Homo sapiens: one gene and its partners. The protein of the gene in region 5 purifies or fractionates together with the protein of the main gene of each other region. This does not show direct contact. Each region holds a gene or a part of one and is shown on either strand. Other genes may lie near its edges. The genes, in order: THADA, TIMP2, ITM2C, SLC35F6, PSAT1, ACAT2 and TMEM150C.

Evidence for each region.
Region 1: the proteins of PSAT1 (region 5) and THADA fractionate together in Homo sapiens (co-fractionation; one large-scale study listed by BioGRID). This does not show direct contact.
Region 2: the proteins of PSAT1 (region 5) and TIMP2 purify together in Homo sapiens (co-immunoprecipitation; one large-scale study listed by IntAct). This does not show direct contact.
Region 3: the proteins of PSAT1 (region 5) and ITM2C purify together in Homo sapiens (co-immunoprecipitation; one large-scale study listed by IntAct). This does not show direct contact.
Region 4: the proteins of PSAT1 (region 5) and SLC35F6 purify together in Homo sapiens (co-immunoprecipitation; one large-scale study listed by IntAct). This does not show direct contact.
Region 6: the proteins of PSAT1 (region 5) and ACAT2 fractionate together in Homo sapiens (co-fractionation; one large-scale study listed by BioGRID). This does not show direct contact.
Region 7: the proteins of PSAT1 (region 5) and TMEM150C fractionate together in Homo sapiens (co-fractionation; one large-scale study listed by BioGRID). This does not show direct contact.

Annotation. Positions count from the first base shown.
Region 1 is NC_000002.12:43,233,195-43,236,038, forward strand, and holds part of THADA (tRNA (32-2'-O)-methyltransferase regulator THADA), read right to left. Parts: intron 1-2,844. UniProt on the Homo sapiens protein: Together with methyltransferase FTSJ1, methylates the 2'-O-ribose of nucleotides at position 32 of the anticodon loop of substrate tRNAs.
Region 2 is NC_000017.11:78,855,933-78,859,387, forward strand, and holds part of TIMP2 (metalloproteinase inhibitor 2 precursor), read right to left. Parts: intron 1,715-3,455; coding exon 1,590-1,714; intron 1-1,589. UniProt on the Homo sapiens protein: Complexes with metalloproteinases (such as collagenases) and irreversibly inactivates them by binding to their catalytic zinc cofactor. Known to act on MMP-1, MMP-2, MMP-3, MMP-7, MMP-8, MMP-9, MMP-10, MMP-13, MMP-14, MMP-15, MMP-16 and MMP-19.
Region 3 is NC_000002.12:230,867,942-230,871,441, reverse strand, and holds part of ITM2C (integral membrane protein 2C), read right to left. Parts: intron 1-3,500. UniProt on the Homo sapiens protein: Negative regulator of amyloid-beta peptide production. May inhibit the processing of APP by blocking its access to alpha- and beta-secretase.
Region 4 is NC_000002.12:26,774,284-26,777,783, reverse strand, and holds part of SLC35F6 (solute carrier family 35 member F6 precursor), read right to left. Parts: coding exon 3,461-3,500; intron 2,741-3,460; coding exon 2,569-2,740; intron 2,321-2,568; coding exon 2,108-2,320; intron 1,413-2,107; coding exon 1,302-1,412; intron 1-1,301. UniProt on the Homo sapiens protein: Involved in the maintenance of mitochondrial membrane potential in pancreatic ductal adenocarcinoma (PDAC) cells. Promotes pancreatic ductal adenocarcinoma (PDAC) cell growth. May play a role as a nucleotide-sugar transporter.
Region 5 is NC_000009.12:78,321,125-78,324,624, reverse strand, and holds part of PSAT1 (phosphoserine aminotransferase), read right to left. Parts: intron 1-3,500. UniProt on the Homo sapiens protein: Involved in L-serine biosynthesis via the phosphorylated pathway, a three-step pathway converting the glycolytic intermediate 3-phospho-D-glycerate into L-serine.
Region 6 is NC_000006.12:159,760,545-159,764,844, reverse strand, and holds the start of ACAT2 (acetyl-CoA acetyltransferase, cytosolic), read right to left. Parts: upstream 2,801-4,300; 5' UTR 2,758-2,800; coding exon 2,703-2,757; exon of another isoform or gene 2,513-2,702; intron 2,367-2,512; exon of another isoform or gene 2,208-2,366; coding exon of another isoform or gene 2,066-2,207; intron 1,927-2,065; coding exon 1,792-1,926; intron 1-1,791. UniProt on the Homo sapiens protein: Involved in the biosynthetic pathway of cholesterol.
Region 7 is NC_000004.12:82,485,833-82,488,988, reverse strand, and holds part of TMEM150C (transmembrane protein 150C), read left to right. Parts: intron 1-3,156. UniProt on the Homo sapiens protein: Nonselective cationic channel with high permeability to Ca(2+). Component of a mechanosensitive cation channel, confers mechanically activated (MA) currents with slow inactivation kinetics. May contribute to proprioception.

The DNA of each region.
Region 1 (2,844 bases), on a different chromosome or scaffold from region 5:
AGGAAGGCTTCCCTGTCCAGTGTCTCCTCTGCACATCTGCCTGGATTTGACTGGTTTGCCCTTTCCTTGGAAAGCAGATCTCTTGGGCACAAGACACATCCTAGAGCAGGGCATCGGCAAGCTTTTCCTTAAAGGGCCAGAGAGTCAATATTTTAGACTTTGCAAGCCTATACCTCCTCACCTCGGCTGAAAGCAGCCATGGACAATCTGTAAACAAATGGTTGTGGCTGTGTTCCAATAAAACTTTATTTATGGACACTGAAATTTGAATTTAATGTGTCACAAAATATTATTTTTTCCCAACCAATTAAAAATGTAAAAACCATTGATAGCTCATGGGCTGTAAAAAGCAGGTGGTAGGCTGCATTTGGCTCCTATTTTGCTGCCCTCTGTCTCGGAGTTTTTTGTTTTTGGACCCTTGTTTTCCTGGGTGCTTGGAGGAAGGGCACTGAAAGAATAGAAGGGTGCAGAAAGAGGAAGCAGGGGGCCTTGGGGAAACCATTGCTTATTTCAACATTTGGCCTTAGACAATCCTAAATATGGGTTTGGAGGGAGGCTCAGGGGTGTTGTCACTTCCCCTAACAACTCTGCCCCTCCCATCCCAAACCTGGAGGGTGTCTGAAACACGGGACTGAAAGCCCACTGCACAATGGACCTCTGTAGGCCCATCTTGCACCAACTGACATTGAAAGGCCTGTCTTTCAATGATGCATTTCTATTGAGCCCTGATCACTCCCAAATCCACATCTCTAACTTGAGCACACAGACTTACCCTGACCATCTGGCCCCCGAAAGACTTACTCGGCACACAGGCAGACGACCGAGAATCTGCAACAGCAGGCTTAGTTCCCGTGGGTGTTGAACCAGGCTTACTGGGATGGCCCCACTGAGGGCCTAGTGAGTGCCAGGCCCTGATCAAATGCTGTCTCCCCAGTCCTTCTAGCATCCTATGGGTTGGGTATTATGTAACCCACTTGCACACATCAAGAAATTACAGTTGGCAACAAGTTTCATGGTGCATGCAAAGCGCAGATTTGGAGACCCAGCATCAACAATCCAGAGGTTTTGATGGTGGGGTCAGCAGGGGTAGTGACCCTGCAGTAGGGCCAGGACTATTCAGAGGTCACACAGCAGCACCTAGTTGCATGTAAGCAGGTGAAAGTACTGATCTCACCATCTTGAGAGCTCCAGATAAGTCCCCCAGGACACTTGCCCTTTAGTGTCCCCGTTCCCCATGCTGCTTGCTCTGCAGCCTAGAACCCAGATTTAAACCAGGAAACAGAAAAGGGGAGGGGGTGAAGGTGCATTTTGGCTGTGGGTCTGAGCCATGTGTTGACTGGGCCTCTACCTACAATACAATCTCCATTTTTACCTCTACCTAACTCCTTTCTGCAGTTCTCAATTGGCTGAGAATCTGTATAGAGAAGGGATAATTAAGTGGCCTTTTTCTTTCTTTTTTCCCTTCAACTTTTATTGATTGATTGAGACAGAGTCTGTTGCCCAGGCTGGAGTACAGTGGCGTGATCTTGGCTCACTGCAACCTCCGCCTCCTGGGTTCAAGCAATTCTCCTGCCTTAGCCCCCAAGTAGCTGGGACTATAGGCATGTGCCACCACACCCAGATAATTTTGTTTTTGCCCAGCTAATTTTTGTATTTTTTGTAGAGACTGGGTTTCACCATGTTGGCCCGGCTGGTCTCAAACTCCTGACCTCAAGTGATCTACCCACCTCAGCCTTCCAAAGTGCTGGGATTACAGGTATGAGCCGCTGCACCCAGTGGGTTTATCACTCTTTTTTTTTTTCTCAGACTGAGTCTTGCTGTATTGCCCAGGCTTGTGTGCAGTGGCGTGATCTCAGCTCACTGCAACCTCCACCTCCCGGGTTCAAGCGATTCTCCTGCCTCGGCCTCCTGAGTAACTGGGATTACAGGCTCCTGCCACCATGGCTGGCTAATTTTTGTATTTTTAGTAGAGATGGGGTTTCACCATGTTGGCCAGGCTAGTCTTGAACTCCTGACCTCAAGTGATTCACCCGCCTCAGCCTTCCAATGCGCTGGGATTACAGGCATGAACCACTGTGCCCAGCTTATCACTTTTTTGTTGTTGTTGTTTTGTCTTGAGACAGAGTTTCGCTCTTGTTGCCCAGGCTGGAGTGCAGTGGCACCATCTCGGCTCACCGCGACCTCCGCTTCCCAGGTTTAAGAGATTCTCCTGCCTCAGCCTCCCAAGTAGCTGGGATTACAGGCATGCGCCACCACACCCGGCTAATTTTGTATTTTTAGTAGAGACGGGGTTTCTCCATGTTAGTCAGGCTGATCTCGAACTCCTGACCTCAAGTGATCTGCCCCCTCGGCTTCCCAAAGTGCTGGGATTACACCCATGAGCCACTGTACCTGGCCTCCCACCACTTTTTTTATGGTCTCCTTAAGGCAAGGACTGAAAGCCCAACAGGGAAGAAAAAAATTTCATCATCCATCAGCAAAATCAGTATCTGCAGCTCAAGTGACATTCCTGTTGAGTCCATAAAGAACCTATGGGGGTGACCAGAGATGCCACCAAGGAAGGCTAGGCTGCTGCACTAGCCCCACCTGACAGGACAGGTAGCCTCTATCCTGCACCATTTTTTTTTTTTGAGACAGAGTCTCGCTCTGTCGCCCAGGCTGGAGTGCAGTGGCGGGATCTCGGCTCACTGCAAGCTCCGTCTCCCGGGTTCATGCCATTCTCCTGCCTCAGCCTCCCGAGTAGCTGGGATTACAGGCACCCGCCACCACGCCCGGCTAAATTTTTTTTGAATTTTTAATAGAGACGGGGTTTCACCGTGTTAGCCATGATGGTCTCGATCTCCT
Region 2 (3,455 bases), on a different chromosome or scaffold from region 5:
GGGCATGTCCAGAACCCGGCAATGTGCCTACCTGTCATGTGCAGGGATGGCAGCCTCTCCCGAGACCCACGGTTCCTGCAGGGGCAGGCAGCTGGCCTGCGAGGGGGTCTAACCTGCAGGGAAGCTGTGCCCTGCCCACCGCTGCCCCCCCTCCTACTGCAGGTGTGCTTCCCTTTGGGCCATCTTCTACCTTCCTGAGCATGACAGAATGGCCTCAGCTTGGCCCTGCCCTCTGGGGGACACAGCAACAATAAAAGGGCCTGGGTTTCCTGGAGACAGATTCCAGCCCAGTGTTGCTCGCAAGCCGAGCCCCGAGGTCATCGGCAACTAGCAATTTGGCCAAGGAACCCTAGGCTACAAGAGGATGACCGCCTTCACCACCGTGGAAAGAAAAAGGAAAAACTTGCTTTTGATTTCATGCTGGGCACAGAGGAGTTTCGCTTAACATACGTGTGGCTGGAGACTATGAGTTCAGAATTCCTGTTTTGAACATGCGGAGAAGGGGCTGGGGGCCGTCAGGAGGGAGGGCAGCCCCAGGCAGCTCCCCAGGGAAGGCCAATCCCCACAGCCTCACCAGAGTCTCCTGGTCCCAGACTCACTGGGAGTGACCCAGGGTGGGAGGTGCCCAGCACTCAGCCATGCTTCCTGCAGGGAGGGTGGGGATAGGGTGCTAGGAGCCCACAGGGTAGGAGCCAGCCTGGGAGCCCTGGAGGCGGTAATCTCACCTTCCACAGCCACATCTAGGCGCTGCACTGCTCCAGCTGTGCCTGGCACAACCTCCGGGCTCATTTTAAGAGGAGCAGGTGTTCAGGTATTCTCAACACACAGACCCCACATAGACACCAACCCAGGTGTGAAAATGTCGGGAATGTTGGAAACAGCGTAAGGCCTGCAGTGCCTTCTCATAAGCCACACAGGCGTTTGCACTTGCACATTTGTAGAAAATTCTCCATGGGACCATATTCTCTCTCCCCATACAGCTCCTTTTTCTGGAAGCTACAGGTAACAGAGCTGAATTCATGCTCTTACTCTCAAATCTCCTAGCCTTCCAGACATCTCCCTCTTTTTTTTTTGGGACAGAGTCTCACTCTGTCAACCCAGGCTGGGGTGCAGTGGTGTGATCTCAACTCACTGCAACCTCCACCTCCCACATTCAAGCAATTCTTAAGCCTCATCCTCCCAAGTTGCTGGGATCACAGGCGTGCACCACCTCACCTGGCTAATTTTTGTATTTTTGTAGAGACAGGGTTTCGCCATGTTGGTGAGGCTGATTTCCAACTCCCGACCTCAAGTGACCCACCTATCTCGGCCTCCCAAAGTGCCGGGATTACAGGCGTGAGCCGCAGCGCCCGGCCTCCAGACATCCCCTGTCAGAGATGTGCCTCAGGGCTCTCCAGGGACCAGGGGTCAAAGGCTCTGTCCCCAGCCAGACAGCCTTACTCTTGGGATGACTCTACCTTCCCAGAGCCTGGTCTTAGATCAGGAGCCGGGGATTAACGGGTCCTGGAAAGCCAGGGATCAAAATCCCTGCCGTCCATCTGGAGACACTGGGAGGAGGCGATGCTCCAGCAGAGGCAGGACCTGCTTACCTTGCACTCGCAGCCCATCTGGTACCTGTGGTTCAGGCTCTTCTTCTGGGTGGTGCTCAGGGTGTCCCAGGGCACGATGAAGTCACAGAGGGTGATGTGCATCTTGCCGTCCCCCTCGGCCTTTCCTGCGGAGAGACGGGGATCACCGAGCTCAGGGAGAGGGAAAAGTCCTCCTCCTGCCCAGCTCCTCCACCCGGCGCAGGGGCGCTGGGATTTCGTTGCAACAATCCTGTGCACTGTCTATTCTGAGTTAAAACACAGTGGGTGGCCAGGCACGGTGGCTCACTCCTGTAATCCCAGCACTTTGGGAGGCTGAGGCGGGTGGATCTCTTGAGGCCAGGAGTTCAAGACCAGCCTGGCCAACGTGATGAAACCCCCTCTCTACTAAAATACAAAAAATTAGCCGGGTGTGGTGTCACACGCCTGTAATCCCAGCTACTTGGGAGGCTGAGGCAGGAGAATCGCTCTTGCACCCCAGAGGCGGAAGTTGCAGTGAGCCGAGATCGCGCCACTGAACTCCAGCCTGGGTGACACAGCAAGACTCCGTCTCAAAAAAATAAAAAGTGGAAAAAAAAAGAAAGCCATAATGCATGTTCACTGACAGAAACTTAAACATTGGAAACAAAGAAAAAACTTCCTGGCCAGGGGCGGTGGCTCATGCCTGTAATCCCAGCACTTTGGGAGGCCGCGGCAGGTGGATCACAAGGTCAGGAGATCGAGACCATCCTGGCTAACACGGTGAAACCCCCGTCTCTACTAAAAATACAAAAAATTAGCCAGGCGTGCTGGCGGGCACCTGTAGTCCCAGCTACTCAGGAGGCTGAGGTAGGAGAATGGCGTGAACCCGGGAGGCGGAGGTTGCAGTGAGCCGAGTTGGTGCCACTGCACTCCAGCCTGGGCCTGGGCGACAGAGCGAGACTCAGTCTAAAAAAAAAAAAGAAAAGAAAAAAATTCCCTACTTTCATTACCCACAGCTAATATTTTGATGTATTTCCTTCCAATATTCCACTATTGATTTTGAGACAGTCTTGCTCTGTCGCTCAGGCCAGAGTGCAATGGTATGATCATAGCTCACTGCAGCCTTGACCTCCCAAGCTCAAGCGATCCTCCCGTCTCAGTCTCCTGAATAGCTGGGACTATAGGTGTGAACCACTACACCCTGCTAATTTTTTATATTTTTTTTTGTAGAAACAGGGTCTTGCTATGTTACTCAGGCTGGTCTTAAACTTCTGCGCTCAAGCAATACCCCCACTTTGGCCTCCCAAAGTGTTAGGATTATAGGCATGAGCCACCACGCCTGGCCCCAATATTCTTTTAAATTAAATTTTATTCTAAAAAAAGGATAGAGACGATGTTTCACCATGTTGCCCAGGCTGGTCTTGAACTGAGCTTAAGTGATCCTCCCACCTTGACTTCCCAAAGTGCTGGGATTACAGGTGTGAGCCACTGCGCCCGGCCAATATTCTCTTCTATGTGCATCTTCACACATAAAACGTCATGCAGTATGTAGATTATATTGTTTCCTGTTTTGTTTTTCACAAAATATTAATTCACAGGTGCTTCTCCCATTTGAGTTTAAACTTATAATTCTGCATTTTTCCATTATGAAGAGCCAAAGCATGGAATTTTTGAAAATTAGGAATCTGCTCTGAATTCCCTTCATCAGGCATGATGAGCTGTGGCTTCTTTCTGTACTTCCGGCTCCTGACTCAGCTGCCTCCTTCCTTTGCTGAAGATACTACATTGGCAATAGCCTTGGCGTTTTACAAGCAGGAGGAAAAGAACAAAGCAGTGTGTTCCAGTGGCTGACAGAACCTAATGACAGCTATGGAAGTCATTTAAAAACTCATCCCTCAGGCCAGGTGC
Region 3 (3,500 bases), on a different chromosome or scaffold from region 5:
GTTTTCCAATGGACTCCCGGGAGCAGCAAGAGACGGGGGTGACACCTTCCGTTGGCATCTCCCAGGGATCGAACCACCCAGGAGCTCTTGCAAACCAGGCACCAGGGATGCCCTCCTGCCCCTCTGGCGCTCCTGAGCAGGTCTTAAGGAAAGGTGGCTGACCCTGACACAGGCCAGGCTGCCTACAGCAGCTGGGAAATCTGCCCTCGGGACACAACAAACACCAGGGCTCAGATTGTATTTAGGGGTCAAGTGGGGCTACAGGCCCAGCGGGGCCCTGCAACCTCCCCCTTCTCGGGTCTCCCATGCAAAATGTGGACAGACTCTGCGTGACAGGGGTTTTGCTGGGATTAAACGAGACAAAGAACCTAAAAGCCCTTTGTAAAGGATCAAGTGCTAGATAAAAATAGCAGATCTTTATCAGCCGAGCCTTTCCTTTTTAGGGCTGACTCTGTGGACAGCTGTTGAGGCTGCATTGTGGCCAGACTTTTGCTTCTGCATTCTGGAAAACCAGGGAAACTAGCTTGTGAGATTGCTAACAACCAGAAAGACAGAAAAGGGAAAAAAAAAAAAGTCAAAGCGCTACGTGGGAGAGCCCGAGGGCCTGCTCCACAAATCAAATTCACCGACAAGGTGAGGCCTGCTAGCTTTATGGCAAAGGGCAGCCTCGCCTTTCCGCCTTTCCGCCTTAATGCTGGTCTGCAGAACTTGAGCTGGGTCCCGTGTCTCCCTGTCCTGGGGGAGGGGCTGGGCTCGGAGGCCCCACCGAGGGAGGTTAGAGAAGACAGAGCAGGGAGAAGGTGAGGCTTCCACGGCCCCAGCTGAAGAGCAGCAGTGGCAGGTGTGGCAGAGAAGGGCAGGGGTTCCTGCCAAGACCCCTCACTGTGAAGGCTGGGGATCCCCCACCTTACCTAGACTGCGGGTGGGCACTTCTCTCTCATGGCCCTGCTGATGTCCCCCAGCACACACCCGGGCTCAGCCACGCTGCCACCCTCCCAGCTCCGCTCCAGCCTGCAGAGCCAAACCCTCAGAGGCACCATTATGAGCAGAAGTGCAGAAGGCAGCATTACAGGCTACCAGAAAGTAGACAGGAAAGCGCAGATGTCCCTGCTTGGAGGCGAAGGCATTTCCTCCATAAAGCCCCACACAGAGGCAGAACTCCTAAATCCCGCCCCAGCGCTGCCTCTGCCTACTGTGCCCAATCAACACCAAGGCTCAAACACCAAAGCCCTGGAACCCTCACTGTCCCTTTGGCCCTCAAAGCAGCCTGTGATCTCGGGGTATTTACACCTGTCTGGGGACAGTGGGGCATCAGGGAGCCTGGGCTCAACCCAGAGCCCTGGCCCCTTGGGATCCCTGGTGCCCAGCTCACTAGAAAGATGGCCGAATGGCCCACCTTCCTGAGACCCCAGCCGCACCACCTATCATGCTGGGGACCCAGAAAAATGTTGCTCCCCATAGGAAGCAGTTACTGACAGTGAGGTATCTGAGGAGGGGGGCTCCCATTTAGATAGTAGAAAAATATTGCATATTGTTTCCAAGGCAACAGAGCTCTCTGAGCGAAGGGCGCATGAGCCGGAAGTCCAGGGACCCGAGAGAGGCCTGGGCCTCTCCCTGCAGGCTTAAACTGAGACCCACAGGGGCACTCATTAAATGATTTACCAAAGCCAGGGCCAAAATGGTCAGGGGGAAACCAGCCAACTGTAGCATTAACTCGGCAGACCCCCACAGCTGGAAGGGAGCGCTCCCGGGCCCCATCCCCCAGTAACAATGTCCAAATTAACTGCAAGCCGATTTAACGATGATTGCAGATTGCAGCCTGCCTGGAGGGGTTCGGCAGCCAGAAACGCACTCCTGAGGCCCAGGCTGAGAACAGGGAAGATGGGGGTTGGGGAGGCAGTCTCATCTCACCTCCCCCACATCTCTCCTGGTCCTCAGCAGCTTTCTTTCCCAGGCTCCAGACCACAGAGGCCAGGGCACCCACCGAGTGTGTGTGTCTTGTATGTGTTCAAGACAGAGCCTAGCTGGGGGAGAGGAGAGTGGGCAAACACTGTCCACCTGAGCACACAGAGCCCAGTGGTCCAGAGGCACAGATGCCATCTGCCAACAGGGTCAGGGGTCCCCATCACTCTCCTGTCCTCCCTTCCAGACTGCAGGCCCCACGGGCAGCATCTGTGCAGATGCGCTCTCGGCTTGGCTGGGCCAGGCGAATTCCCTCTTCTCTTCCATCCCTGATAGTCAAGGCATCTCCAGACAACAAAAGCTCACTGCTGGAAGAGCCCTCATGGGGAGAGGGAACTTGGAGAGAGTGGGGCGGTGGACAGAGGGGCTGGCCAGGTTGTGCCTCTGTGATTTCACCATAAACATTTTTTCTCCACACTAAGAGAAACTCATCCTCACTGGCAATCTGCTGACGGTCTTGAAACATGCAAGGACTGCTGAGAGAAGAGAGCAGAAATGAGGGAATGGAGAGAGAAGCGGCAGGAAAGCAGAGAAGCCACCGTGGGGCCTGCCGGGGCGCCAAATCCCAGGAATGGACGACAGCCATGAAAGTCCCCACGCTGCCACAGGGAAGGACCTGGATGGAGCAGGGCCGCTGCTCCACAAAGTGCTTTCGGGCCAGGCCCTCTTGGCCAGTGGGCATCAGGACACTGGGGTAGGGCTAAGCTGGCCAGATTTGCCCTCCTGGCTGGCACGGGACCCTCCCCCAACCGCTCCAGGAGACCCAGCTCCTCCTGCCGAGGGCCTGAGACCAGGACACACTAGGAAACTGAAATCTGATCCCCAGGTATGCAGGCTGGGGAGGGGGTGACACAGGACCATTAATCAAAGGCAAATGCCAAGGAGAAAATTACAGAGGTAAGAAGATGATTGTATTTAACTTGTTTTTCTCCCCTTACAGCCCCAGCTCGTGAGCCTCTACATGCCCACATCTGTGCGTGCATGTGTGTGCATAAGTGTGTGTGTGTGTGTGTGTGAGTGCAGGCACAGGCAGGGTGTGGGGAGAAGGGGCAGGCTAAGAGGGGCATGGCCAGCCAGTGGGCCCCCAAAGGGGAGGAGGGATCCAGTTGGCGCTGGGAGGGAGTGCTTTGCTGTCCCAGGGGGTGCTTCCGGTCCAGCCCACTTCCCAAGCTGGCAGTGTCCCAGCTCCTCATTATCTCAGAGTCAAAACACCAGGGGGGGAGGCCGGGCAGCTGGAAGCCCAGCTGGCCCCCACCCCCATCCCTCCCTGGCCCACTGAGGCACTTCCTTCCAGTCTCAGGTCCACAGACAAAATCCTCCTTGTGTTGCAGTTTTTGCTCAGAAGCAGGGGCAGTGCCCACCGAGAGGGTGCTCCTGCCGCCTCACCCTGCCCCCACCCCGCCCTCACTCTGGGCCTGGACACAGGTCAAGAACTGCCCCAACGCACAATCATCTGTTCACCGCACAATCATCTGTTCACCGAGTGCTCCTCCTGCGGATCACTTTTTACATCTTGTTTTGGGCCGGGTGTGGTGGCT
Region 4 (3,500 bases), on a different chromosome or scaffold from region 5:
ACGTGTGCACAGGTTCATGGACACACACACACACACACACTCATAAAAACATTACCCTTACAGTATACAATGCTCTGATATTTAAAAATTCTATTCATTTAAAAAAAGAACTGCCAGCTGCAACTGACTACATTATTTTCACAAGTTTGGAAAAACACAGCTTTCTAGTTCAGTGTGTTACTGGTCTGTGACAAGGAGCTTGCGCCAGAAGGTAAGTCCATGCACTGCTTCACTCATTAAGGTCTTGCTAGAAAACAGAAATGAGTGGAAATAGACTGCATGCTCAGTGATATAGCTAATTCACATTCTGCCTAAGTCCCTTAGCTCACCGGGGGCCAGACAAGAGCTGCTCCCCAACAGGCACTAGCCCCCAGGACATTCTTTGAAAGCGCAGCTGTATCTTGCTAATCTCATAATTTTGATACTTACTTCCCTGCTCAAAAACTTTCAGTGATTCCTCCGTCATTTAAAGTCTAAATCTACTTGCCTGATGGTAAAGTTCTCTAATGACATGACCCTGACCTACTTAATTCCTGATTATTTCCCCAACATCAAACCTATACTGCACTCAAATTATTATTTTTTGAGATGGAGTCTCGTTCTGTTGCCCAGGCTGGAGTGCGGTGGCGCAATCTCGGCTTGCTGCAGCCTCTGCTCCCCCAGTTCAGGCGATTCTCCTGTCTCAGTCTCCTGAGTAGCTGGGACTACAGGCATGCGCCACCACGCCCAGCTAATTTTTGTATTTTTTGTAGAGACGGTTTTGCCATGTTGGGCAGGCTGGTTTCAAACTCCTGACCTCAAGTGATCCACCCGCTTTGGTCTCTCAAAAGTGCTGGGATTACAGGTATGAGCCACCGCACCTGGCCACACTCAAAATTATTCCTCACTGGTTTTCAAATTCACATCCAGTCCCCTGTGCCTTTGCTCTGTTTGGAGCTGCTCCTACTACTGCCTGTTGAAATTTGCAGCTCGAATGCCACCCTCCCTGCCCTGAGAGACTCAGATAGGCATGGCCAATGAGACATCAGTTGAGCACAAGTGGTCCAAACTTGAATTCACTGACTGCCCTTTCTTCCTGCTGGTCACCTCCTCTGAAGGGCTTGCATCTCATTCATCTCTGTCCTTGGTCTCCTCTAGTTCCTGACACAGCAGGTGTCAGAAGACTTGTCAAAACACATCTGGAAGGCAAGGCGGGGCAGGAAGTTCACCCCCCACAAGTGAACCCTGGCACCTTGTCCTGTGCTCAGCTCCCCAGGCTCCCTTCTACCCCACTCCTTCCAGGCCCCTGTGCCCACACACACCCTCAGTGCCAACTGCCCGCAGTGGGTGCACATTGTGTTTGTAGACGAACTTCTCCTCTAGCACCATCTGGATGGCAACGATGATCTGGGCCATGATGATCAACAGGTCCCCTGTGGGGAAGGAGGGACCCAGATGAGAACAGGGCTGCACTGGGGCTGGGGGCCAGGAGAGCATGGCCACAGCGACCAAACATGCCAGCCCCTGACCTCTGCAGGGCCCCCTATAGTTCATAGGCACAGTCACCACTGCCTGTCCCTGATTCCCTGGTTCCTGAGGGGCATGCCAGCAGTGCCAGGCTAAGGCCCCAGAGGCCTGCCTGTGTCTAAGAGCTGCCCCACGGGGTATGACGCAGGTCTTTCAAGAAGCAACAGGCTTTGAGATAGACATTTCTTGGTTGATCCTGACCCTAAGTGACCCAGGACAGTCATTTCATTGTAAAATGGGCTGTGATGCATCCGTTTGGGGCCTGTGGGAGTCACTGTGATGATGAACACACAGTGCTCAGCACCAGGCTGGGCACTTGGTAAGCACCTGTTCCTTTCCACTCCCAAATCCAGTAGTTTGCATGTCTGCATCTGTATCAAAGGACAAGCCAGCCCCTCGCCCTGCCCGGCCTGCCACTCATCCTTGGTGGAGCCACATCCCTTTGCAGTCTTCCCTACATTCTATCCATCACCTCCAGAGCTACCCACCTCACCCAGGGCTTGGTATATGGCACATGGCAGAGCTTGTATGAGTCTGTGCTGGGCTCCCAAGGAGGACAGGGCAGGATAGGGCAGCCCCGTGTCCCTGCCCCTGGCCGCACCTGTGATCACTTCGCTGAGCTTGTGCTGACTGTCGTGCTTGCTCAGGAGGTCAGCCAGGCCCACGACCACCAGCCCCGCGATGGTGGCTAGGATGCCCAGCCACTGGCTCAGCACCAGCCTCCGGCCCAGGAAGGCCACCGAGAACAGGCCAGTGAATATGATCACTGCACCCCGCAGCATCTGGAAGCTGGAGGCACTGGTCATGTTCAGAGCTAGGAAAGGAGAAACAAATTACAGTTAGCTTCCCAAGGCGAAGGCCATCTGTCACTAAGGGGTCTTTGGTGATAGACATGCCAAGCTCATAGTAAGCGCTCGATCAGTCCTGCCTGTGTGCCTGTGCGTGTGAAGTCTGGGGGAATGGTGGGATGAAGTGGAGGTGGGTGGGATAGGGCTGTTTCACCAGTAGCCCCTTCAGCCACAGCTTCCCCTGAGCCCTTCTCAGCCTGGCCTGGTTACTCACCCACATACATGAGGCTGGTCCCTGTCATGTCACAGAGCGCTGGGGGCAGGAAAAGAAGAGGGTTGAAGGGCTGCTGGGGGTCTACGCTGGAGTCTGATTGCCCTGCAGCTCTGCATCGGAGGAGGTAGAAGGCAGCCAGGCAGGAGAATTCTCCCAGGAACATGCCCACTGCCTGCAGGGATGAAAACCCGAGGACTTCAGAGCTGGAAGGGATCTCGGGGATCATCTTTAACTATTTTTTTTAATGCAAACTTTTGTCAAACAAGAGCTTACCCAGAACCCCAATATGTAAAATAGACAAATGCAGAGCTGCCATGGAGGCTAGAGACAGCCTCCTAGGTCTGCCCCAAAGCCCCCATACATCCTGATGAACCCTAAGGCTGTGCAGAGCCCTGTCTGAAAACCATCCATCTAGGCCAACCCCTAGTCAAATCGCAGGTGGAGAAGCCTAGACCCAAGAGAGGCTCAAAGACTTATGTAAGGCCACAAAGCAAGTTGCTGGTAGAGCTGGGGCTGACATTTGAGTCTCCTGATTCTCAGTTCAACGAACAGTGTCTTCCATTTATGGTGTCTGCCCTGTCCCAATTGGGGTCTGGGCTCCCAGTGGATAGAGAGCTGACTTTTGTCACTAGGGCTGATGTTTTCCACGTGTCCTGACTTGGATGTGGTGAGGACATGACCACTTGCCAGGACTTTCGCAGAGGATGGTGCTCTTTGCCCTATTCTAAACCTTGGATTCTGCTCTGGGGAGGGAAAGAGAGAAGTGGATGGCTCTTCTGGGAGCAGGAGACACCTCCACTCCTAAGTCAGGAAACAGCCTGGCCTCATGGCCGGGGGTGGCGCCTGGTCTGAGGCCCGGGAGACAGGAGGTAGGAGGGACAGGGCCAGATACCTGGAGGAAGGGATGCTGGAAGCTGTGCTCCTTGCTCCCT
Region 5 (3,500 bases):
AAACATGGGTGACCCCGTCAAGCACCACTGTGGGCTGGATCTAGCCCCTGCTCCCCAGTGAGCAATCAATCCCTGGAGTTAACACCAAATTTCAGAGGTGACCAGGTCTGTTGTTTGAATGGGTTGAGGGCCGAGGTAGGAGAAGGGGCCAAGGCAGACTGAGAGGCTATGTGGGCTATGGATGGGCATGGAACCAGCTGGAAATCCCAGGGCTGCAAAGATTTAAGGAGAAAGTCCAAGTGGGAACCAGGGAAAGAGCCGCACTTCCCAACATCTTGGTGGAGCACGAAGATGTCAACAGGCATTCTGGGAAAGTGGTTCCATGGCCAGAGAAACTTAGGAAAGCTGCATTCACAGAGCTAGGCAGACCTCCTCACTCCTGACTTCCTGAAGCCTCTCAACAGCTCACCGACCACGTAAATGAGGAACCCCAGGAGGTCAGACAGGAACGCAGTGTTCCCCCATGACTGAAAAACCCTTCCTATTGTGGGGATGAGAGTTCCAGACAGTCCCCTCGGAGACACGCTGCTCAGGGACACACCGGGACTTTCCAAGGTACTGGAGGAGGGGAACATGGCAGAGGTACACCTTCAGCCAGGGACACCCATCCCACGAAGGTGGTAAGGCTCAGAAGGGAACGCAAGAAAGTCACAGGAGATGAGCAGGCAGTGAAGAAACATCACTCCACAGTCAGGCCCCTCTGAAAGGATGTGTCAGATACACAGGGAATGAGAAAGAAGAGTATGTGAAGAGAAGCCTACCAAATGCAACCCTATGTAGGCCTCTCCTTACTGCCTGGTTTTGTCAACAAAAAATTAATTTTAAATTTGTACATGATTATGAAAATCTAGAATAAAAATATGAAGATCTGCCACCCCTCTTCCCACAAGAGGTGGCTACCCTAATGGTCTGCTGTGCATTCCTGAAGATCATTTTAGATATACACATGTACGTCTGTGTGCATATGCATGTATACATGTATGTGTGTCTATGTGTAAATATGTATGTATATATAACTCTTGTAGTTTTGTTTTTGTTTTTGTTTGAGACAGGGTCTCACTCTGTCACCCAGGCTGGAGTGCAGTGGTCCAATCTCAGCTTACTGCAGCCTTGACCTCCTGGGATCAAGCGATCCTCCCGCCTCAGCTTCCCAAGCAGCTGGCACTACAGGCATGTACCACCACACCCGGCTAATTTTTTATTATTATTATTATTTGTAGAGACGAGGTCTCACTATGTTGCCCAGGCTGGTCTCAAACTCCTTGGGGTCAAACAATTCTCCCACCTTGGCCTCCCAAAGTGCTAGGATTACAAGCATCAGCCACTGTCCCTGGCCTTGTTGTAGTTTTTAAAGACTAATAGATTTGTCTTTTCCTACACTTGCTCTTGCTCCTTTTGGTCTGATGACATAACACAGTCATCTTCCCATGTCTGCTAAGAGACCCGCTTCATCCTTCTCAATGCAGTCATTCCATATTACCCACAGATCCTCATTGTTTTCATCAGACCCCTACTGATGGGCACAACTGCATATTTCCACCATTACATCTTACATTGGACTTGCTGGTCCCTAATTTTGTGCACACCACTGTACCCAGGCAGAGTGCTGGGGAAGGGTAAATCTGTAGACATCAAAATCCTTGGTCAAAGCCCATGTAAGTTTTGAATTATAATGAGCGCTGCAATCTTTGCTCCAAATTTGTCCAGATTTATACTCTCACCAAAAGTGCATGCCCTTGCTGGCACCAGATGTTATCAATCCTTTTAATGTATGCAGATGAAAGGCAAAACATATCTCATGGGTTTAATCTGCATTTCCTAAGGAACTAATGAAGGTGGCATCTTTCCATTTGTCTATGAGGCAGCTTGCATTTCTTCTGAGTTGTTTCCTCATACTGTTAGCAACCACCACACCCCCACTTTTATTTCCTTATCCTTTTTCATTCATCTGTGGGTTCTTGCCTAAATTAAGGATAGTAACCTTTATGTTTAATATACTACAAAATCTTTCTCATTCTGTCATTTTTGATTCTGTTTATGATGTCTTAAGCCATATAAAATTTTAAAATTTTCATGTAATTAAATACGTCATTCTTTTACTTTATAGCTTGAGTTGTATGTTTAAGGCCTTCTGCACTCCTGGACATAGACAGCAGCAGAGGTTCTGGAATGAGCCTTCCACCCCCATGTTCGTAGCCTGGCTGGTCCCACTTTCCAGCTGCATCCTTGTCCTATCTGTGCTTCTGCTGCATAGGCTCAATGTCTACTTCACAGGGTTGTGATGACAACAAAATGCATTCACATGTGTAAGGTGCCTAGGACTCTGCCTGCTTCATTTTATTTTAGGGTCTTCGCTAGACCCATCACGTGCCTCCTTCTCTTTCCTAAGGCCTGGTACCCACATAAGGTGATAAAGGTGACCTCAGATCCAGACATGGAATCTGTCACTTGGACATCCTTATATAATAAAATTAATATATATTATATACTTATATAATTAATTATATTACATAAGCTTATATAAGCACTGTGTGTCAGGAATATCATAATTGCTTTATATAACAATAACCACAAATAATGATATTAAGAGCTAACATGCAAGGAATGCTTCCTGTGTGCCAACCACTGTTTCTAGCACTTTATACAAATTAACCAGCACAAGAGTCCTCAATCCTTAATGTAAAAATGCTCTCAATCCTTATATTATATATTCTTGATTCAGAAGCATTTCCTTTTAATTCTCTTGACAATTTTAAGAAGTATGTATCATTACCTCCATTGTACAGATGAGAAAACTGTGGCTTAGAGCAGTTAGGTCATTTGCACGAGGTCACACGCACCACCGTGGCAAAATGGGGCTTCTAAGCCCAAGGTGCTAAACGGCCCACGTGGGCTCAACATGGGGTCAGTCAGCACAGTGTGGGTGACTGGGCTATGGAATCAACTTGGAGGCTTCGATGGTTGTCTTATCTAGTCCCAGAATTCCCTGCCAAGGTCACTGGCAGGGCTGGTGAAACCCCCAGCAAACAACCTGGAACTATGTTAAGGAGCTGGTTTACGAGTCAGGGGGCATGGAAGTGGGGAGGGGGTGCATCTTCTCAGAGACAAAAATGAGGAGCAAAGGTGGTGGTAAATTGCAAATTCTAATTCTAGGTATTCCTCTTTAAAAGTGGCCACCTCCCATGGGGCCATGTTGCTCAACTATTTCCATAGTTCCAAAGAAAAGAAGAATTTCCTGAAAATCTAAGTGAGTTCAGGCACAGCCTGGGAGTCTCCAGCTATAAACAGAGGAGAGACAGAGTACAGCCTCCTCTCTACTCCAGTAACAAGGTCCCACAGAACACCAAGTGCCTGGGATGACGCTTTCCAGGCAGGCAACTGAGGGGGTGGTGGGAGTTCCTAGAAAGAGGTTTATTCTTAAAAGGACTGGAAGTCCTGGGTCAAGGCAGTTCAGAAATGAGTGAAGAGCTCTGGGTGTGAAGGATGACCAGATTCCCCAG
Region 6 (4,300 bases), on a different chromosome or scaffold from region 5:
TAAAATGAAGATAATAGGATATAACAGACTTGTGAGGAAGATTAAATGAGGTAATGAAAGGAAAGCATTTAGCACAGTGCTTTAAAAGCCTTAAACTTAGTAGACATGCACCGGTAGTCCCAGCTAGCTCAGAAGTTCAAGGGCATGGTGCACCATGATTGTGCCTGTGAACAGCCATTGCACTCACGCCCAGGCAACAGACAGACTCCACTTCTACAAAAAAATTTAAAAAATTAGCCAGGTGTGGTGGCCTGCTCCTGTAATCCCAGCTACTCCAGAGGCTGAGGTGGGAGGATACCGTGGAGCCCAGGAGTTTGAGGTTATAGTGGGCTACGATTGATTACACCACTGCATTCCAGCCTGGACAACAGAGTGAGACCCTGTCTCTTTAAATAATAATAATAATAATTAATTAATTAATTACGAGTGTTCAAACCCAAAGAATCAGAAGATGGGGGCACTCTCAGGACTCAGCTATATTCCTCTGGGGAGTGATATGCCCCATTTGCAAGGGGCATGATGTGGCACCTATTTTCCAAGCTCAGAACTGAGCCCTAAGAGGGCAGGGAACTTACCTGTATTGTTGGAACCATACTCCCAGCACTAAGCACAGTATGGGGCACATAGGAGGAACTGAATACATTTTTGTTGAATGAGTGACACTTTGAGGTAGTAAGGAGGAGCAGGCATACTTTCCTATGCGTCAGGCTGGCCCTGCTGCTGCTTCTTCTTCTTCTTTTTAAAAGGAGTCTCACTCTGTTGCCCAGGCTGAATGGAGTGCAGTGGCACAATCTCAGCTCACTGCAAGCTCCGCCTCCCGGGTTCACGCCATTCTCCTGTCTCAGCCTCCCAAGTAGCTGGGAATACAGGCGCCCGCCACCACACCCGGCTAATTTTTTGTATTTTTAGTAGAAACGGGGTTTCACCGTGTCAGCCAGGATGGTCTTGATCTCCTGACCTCATGATCCGCCCACCTCGGCCTCCCAGAGTGCTGGGATTACAGGCGTGAGCCACCGGGCCCGGCCGGCCCTGCTTCGTAAGAATGAAAAGGCAGTGGGCCGCCTGTAGTCCCAGCTACTCGGGAGGCTGAGGCAGGAGAATGGCGTGAAACCGGGAGACGGAGCTTGCAGTGAGCCGAGATCACGCCACTGCACTCCAGCCTGGGCCACAGAGAGAGACTCCGTCTCAAAAAAAAAAAAAAAAAAAAAAAAAAAAGGAAAAGAAAAGGCAGTGTAGGTGGTGTAGGTCAGTGGTCTAAGTTCATTCACAAAAAGCATATTAATGAAGCTAAGTCTTTTTGTTTGTTTAGAGAAGGGGTCTCACTCTGTCACCCATGACGGAGTGCAGTGACACAATCACTGCAGTCTCAAACTCCTGGGCTCAAGTGATCCTCCCACCTCAGCCTCTCCAGTAGCTGGGAGGCACAGGCCATCATACCTGGCTATTTTATTTTTTGTAGAGACGGGGTCTTGCTTTGTTGCCCAGGCTAGTCTCAAACTTCTGGACTCAAGTGATCCTTCCTCCTCCGCCTCCCAAAGTGCTGGGATTACAGGCGGGAGCCACCCTGCCTGGCCAAGAAGCTGAGTCTCAAGCTGGATAGAAGCTACTGACAGGGCTGGAAGAAGGGGGCCAACAGGAGGAATCATAACAGAGGGAACTCTGAGCAAAAGCAAGGAGGCAAGAACTTGAGTGAGTGAGAGAGTGTGTGAGTGTGTGAGAGTGTGTGTGTGTGTGTGTGTTTATGGGCTGTTTCTAATAAGCCTGACTTCTCCTGGAATCACTGAGACTTACCTGCTGCCAAGACATGTCCAAAGATGACCTCAGACACATCTTCCGGAGCCACAGTGGCCCTCTTCAAGACTTCTTTGATGACAGTGGAGCCCAGGTCCTGGACAGGAACAGCAGCTAAGGCACCATTGAAGGAACCTACAATAGAAAGGCGGAGAGCGTGGACATCACAAGCCTGCGGGTAATACGGGAACCACCTACGAGCAGGGGAGCCTCATGACCCTGTTTGGCAAGGCCACGCGAGGAGGCAGTGCCCTCTCCTCCCACACGTTCCTACACCTGCTGGTCTGAGCAAAGGTCAAGGTGGGTGCCACAACTCGCAGCAGCCGAGGGCTGGACAGGCGACCTCCAGAACGGCCTAGGGACGCCGCTGTAGCCCTTCTATTTCCCCAAATCCGAAGGACTGGATGCGACCCCATGCTTCCCAAACAAAAGGAACCGGCGGGTCAAGGGCGTTGAAAACCATGCGGCACGAAGGAGACGAAGTCACGACTTCTAGCCATTGTGTGACAGCCCGACCCCAGCCCAAAGCCGGGCTCAGACCACCTAGCAGTTCCGCCCCTGCCGCAGGCATTACCGATGGCGCCTCCCGGAGCCGGCCAATCAGGGGCCCCGGAGGAGAACACCTCCCTACGCCAACCAATGGGAGAGGCAGGCCACGCGATGGCTCTACCCCGGGAGCCAATCCAAGCACGAGGGACGGAGTGCGCACATCGGGAGAGGAGAGGGTGGGGCTGTAGCACCAGGTCAGGGAACGCGGGAGCCGCAGGGTTCCAGGGATCCCGCGGCTCCTCGCGGCTTGGCCTGACCGGCTTCCTCCACATACGCCCCTCTCCTACACAAGTCCGGCCCTCGGCGCTCCTGCCGAAGCAGCAGGCGCCTCGGACTCTGCGCGGCTCCCGCCGGCCACTCACCTATGATGGTCCGCGCCGCCGAGACGATGACCACAGGATCTGAGCCTGCATTCATCTTGCTTCTCCTGCCGCCGTCTGCCCTGCGCTGCCTGCAAGCTAGGCAAAGCTCCTCCTCGCAGCCCACAGGCCTGCCGCGGGCGGGACCTGAGGTAGCCCCGCCCCTCGCCCTCCACCTCCCCGCGCACCACCTCCCCGCGCATCCCACTGTGCGCAGGCGCAAGGCCGGAGCAGGGGCGGGCGGAGGCGCGCGGGGCGCGGGGCGCGGGGCGCGGGGCGGAAGTGAGGCCGGGGCGCGGGGCGCGGGGCGGAAGTGAGGCCGGGGTCTGGGCTTGCGGGCAGAACCGCGGACCTCGGACGCATTTACAGAGCGCCTGAAACCCCAGTGTTTCTGGACACCCCAATGTTGGAGTTCCCCGACTTGACGTCTTGGGCTTTTTTTTAAAAAATCTTAGGGTTTCTCGAAACAGTAAAGACTGGGGGGTGACAAAGACTTATCTCTCGTTCAGCTCAGGACTGGAATCCCACGGGCGAGAATCTCGAGTGCGAGCCCGGCCCGCGGCGGGTCTCAGCACAGCTCTGATGGGTCCTTTTGCTCTCGGCGGCTTCGGGAGGTCCTATGCGTTTCTCCTGGCGCCAGTCATTCGCTCGCGTGAGGGGCTTGCTAGGAGCGTCTCGGTGCGAGCCCCCTGCCTTCTAAGATCAACTCTGGCTGTGAACGGGTGAGGACGCCGGGAGCGTCTTAGCGTCACAAAAGTTCCTTTGGTTGACGTTTGGACAGTGAAAGGAGCATGTAACAAGTGGGGTCAGTTTTGTTTAAAACCCTTTCTGACTTCCCAGCCTCTTACTGGGCAAAGTTCATAATTTTTCTGAGCTTTCTAGGGTTTCCAGGCAAGCTTATGAGGGGCCACCGTTACAGCAACTTGTTGGGAACACCTGGATAGTGGAACAAGAAAGCTTTGTCACAAAGTCATGAAGGGGAAAACTGTTGACGGACCTGGAGAATCTTCCTGAAGAACTTTAAAGTTGATTGAAAGAATCATTAAATCCTGGAAACCTACATTAAGACTTTGCAGAGATATGCGGATGGGTCAGATAAATCAGAGAAGGTAAAGAGTGTAGGCCCCAGAGGTGGGGCAATAGAGAAGGAAAAAAATTGCATAACAGTGCAATTTCAGGAGAAATCTTTAGGGTCTGGAATAGTGGTGAAATCAGCTGTCTACTCTGCTAAGAACTCAGCAGCACACTGAAGTCTCTTCAGTTGTCTTCAATGTGTTTCCTGTCCCCTAACATATCTGAGTCCAAGGAATTCAAGGAATGCCTCCCGTGGCTTTTGCTCTATTCTATCCCATTTTCCCCTTACTCCCTGGCCACTTCTGAGTCTTTGTGGGCTTACTCTCACATCCCCTTAACATGTTCCCCAAGGCTCCTACTTTGCACCAGCTCCCTGGGTAATACCAGTCATTCCTACGGCATCAATCACCACCTGTATACTGACAAGTCTGAAATCCTTACATCTAACCTCGTCTCCTAAGCTGACTGACCCTCTTCATTTAAATTCTTACAAGCACATCAGGTCGGGCACCTTGGCTCACACCTGT
Region 7 (3,156 bases), on a different chromosome or scaffold from region 5:
AGCCCAGGAGTTTAAGGCTGCAGCGAGCTAAGATCGACTCTGTCTCTAACAATAAATAAATAAATAATAAAGGCCTGGTGCCGTGGCTCATGCTGTAATCCTAGCACTTTGGGAGGCTGAGGCAGGAGGATTGCTTAAGCCCAGGAGTTCAAGACCAGCCTGGGCAAGATAGCAAAACCTGGTCTCTATAAAAATTTGTTTTAGAAAAATTAGCAGGGTGTGGTGGTGTGCACCTGTAGTCCAAGCTACTTGGGAGGCTTGCGGGGAGGATCACTTGATCCCAGGAATTTGAGGCTGCAGTGAGTTGTGATCATGCCACTGCAATCCAGCCTGGGTGACAGAGTGAGACCCTGACTCAAAAAATAAAATAAAATAAAAGGCAAAAATAAAAGAAGTGTTCACTCCAGTAAGGCCCTCCTCAGAAAACCAGAGAAAGGAATCAAGGTTCCTAAAGGGTAGATTGTACAGAAAATGCAATTACACATCTTCAGTCATAATAATCACCAATTTTTAGACAGCGTGCTAGGCATTATTCTAAGTACTTTAAATGTATCAACTCTTTTTATCCTCACTTCACATGTAAGAACAGTGAATCATGGAGAAGTTTAATTTGCGCAAGATCACACAGATAATGCGTGGTGGATCGAGATTTAAACTCAGGCTCAGCTCTTCACTCTTAACCACTTCAGACCCCACCTTAGAGAAAGTAGCTTTAGAATGAAACAATGGCATTCGCAGCAACCTGGTTGGAATTGGAGACCATTATTCTAAGTGAAGTAACTCAGGAATGAAAAACCAAACATCCTGTGTTCTCACTCATAAGTGGGAGCTAAGCTGTGAGGACACAAAGGCATAAGAATGACACAGTGGACTTTGGGGACTCAGGGGAAAGGATGGGAGGGGGATGAGGGATAAAAGACTACAAATTGGGTGCACTATACACTGCTTGGGTGGTGGGTGCACCAAAATCCCAGAAATCATCACTAAAGAACTTATTCATGCAACCAAACACCACCTGTTCCCCAAAATCCTATTGAAATATAAATAAATAAATAAATATAAATAAAAAGTTCAAAATAGCTAGAAAGAAATAAAGTATATCAATTCAAAGAAAGAGAGAGAAAGTAGCTTTAAAATATGAATAGAAGCAGACCCTAAGATGAGGGGGGGAAAGAATAAAATATGAAAACACACACAGTTCAGAGCCCATTCTCTAGTTAGTGGAGTATTTGGACTATTTATTTTTTCTTCATTCACAAATTCCTGTTCCACCATTTTGCTGATTTTCCAAAGTTCTACAGTCACATTAGATAGAGAACATTTAAGGACTTAAGTTCAAGCCAAAAAACTTGGTTCTTGCTAGCAACCTAATAAATACTTTATGAACAAAAAGATCAAAACTCTGCCAATATAAGATAAAAGGAGATATGCTTTCTCCATTAATTTAAGTAATAAGTTAATATTGCTTTGGCAATATTTTGCATCCTTGTTCAAAAGAGTGTGCAGACTTTAAATCACTCCGAGATGTTTTTTGTGATTTAAGACAGGGTCTCATTCTGTTGCCTAGGCTGGAGTGCAGGGGCATGATATTGGCTCACTGCAACCTCCACCTCCTGGGTTCAAGCCATCCTCCCATCTCAGCCTAGAGAGTAGCTGGGATTACAGGCACACACCAAAACACCCGGCTAATTTTTGTTGTTTTAATAGAGACGTGGTTTTGCCATGTTGCCCAGGCTGGTCTCGAACTACTGGGCTCAAGTGATACACACTCCTCGGCCTCCCAAAGTGTTGGGATTACAGGCATGAGCCACCTTGTCCAGCCTATCCCAAGTTTTGAGCTTTCACCAAATGATTCTGATTCATGCTCTTTCTGAACACGTGGAATCTTTTTTTTTTCTTTGGTTCTCAGGTGAATGGATGAAGGCCCAGTTAGCAAAGCAAAGTTTGGCTGAAGTAATTTCACATTCTTGCTCTCTGAAAATTTCCCGATTTCAGGTCTAATTTCAGAAGATAGAACTAATTCTAAGGAGACATTTCTGATCTTTCTAAGTAAATGCATCTAGTTCCTCAGACACTTGGCCTTTCACTAAAGCTGCTATGAACTTTTTACCCTTCTTCCCAGCTCCTCCTTCCATTTATTCTGTTGTGTATATACAGATACAGATACACACAACACACACACATACACACACTCCATATATATATCCAGGCATAAGAGTCTCATTTGTTTTTCTTTTTTTAATGATGGGGCCTTGCCGTCACCCTAGCTAGAGAGCAGTGGTGCAATTGTAGCTCACTGCAGCCTCAAACTCCTGGGCTCAAGTGATCTTCCCACCTCAGCATTCCAAAGCACTGGGATTACAGGCATGAGCTACCCCACCTGGCCTCATCTGTTTATCATACAAGTTTAGACGTGATACGAGGAATGAAACTGGTCTATACAGTATTGTCTGAAAGACAATAGTGAAAATTAGAAGAGACAGGCCAGCCACTCAGACACGGTTAGTAGCACTGCAGAGCCAAACACAACTTACATGTCGGCAGTTAGTAATTTGATATGTTCAAAATTATTTCTGCAGATATAACGATAACTATGAATTCATAGTCATTTGCAGTGCTTTCTTCTTTTTTTTTTTTTTTTTTTTTTTTTTTTAAGATGGAGTCTCGCTCTGTCCACCAGCCTGGAGTGCAGTGGCCGGTCTTGGCTCACCATTTGCAGTGATTTTTTTTTAAAATAGCTTAATTTTTCTGGCAAACTAATTACTTTGGAAGTGTAATCCTTTTCCTAATCTCCCAGTTTTGTAAGCAGCTACAGAGTACAGCTATTGAATACATGGCGCAGGAGTTAGAGTGCTTGTTTGAGCCCAGCTCAGCCAATTAATACCTGTGTGACCTCAGGCAAGTTACTTACCCATTTGGTCTCAGTTTCCCTATTTTTAAACAAACTGACAATTATTTGGATAAGAGAGTATTTAAGGGCAAATAGAACATGTAAAAATGAGAAACAAAAACAATGATAATAGGATTGTTGTGAGGATTAAGTGATACTATCCATGAAAGCACCTAAAAGCATGTCTACCACCAAATATGAGCCCAATAATGTTAACTTATTATTCATATAGATTTTCGTGTTCAACAAGCTCTAGCAGGCTACCA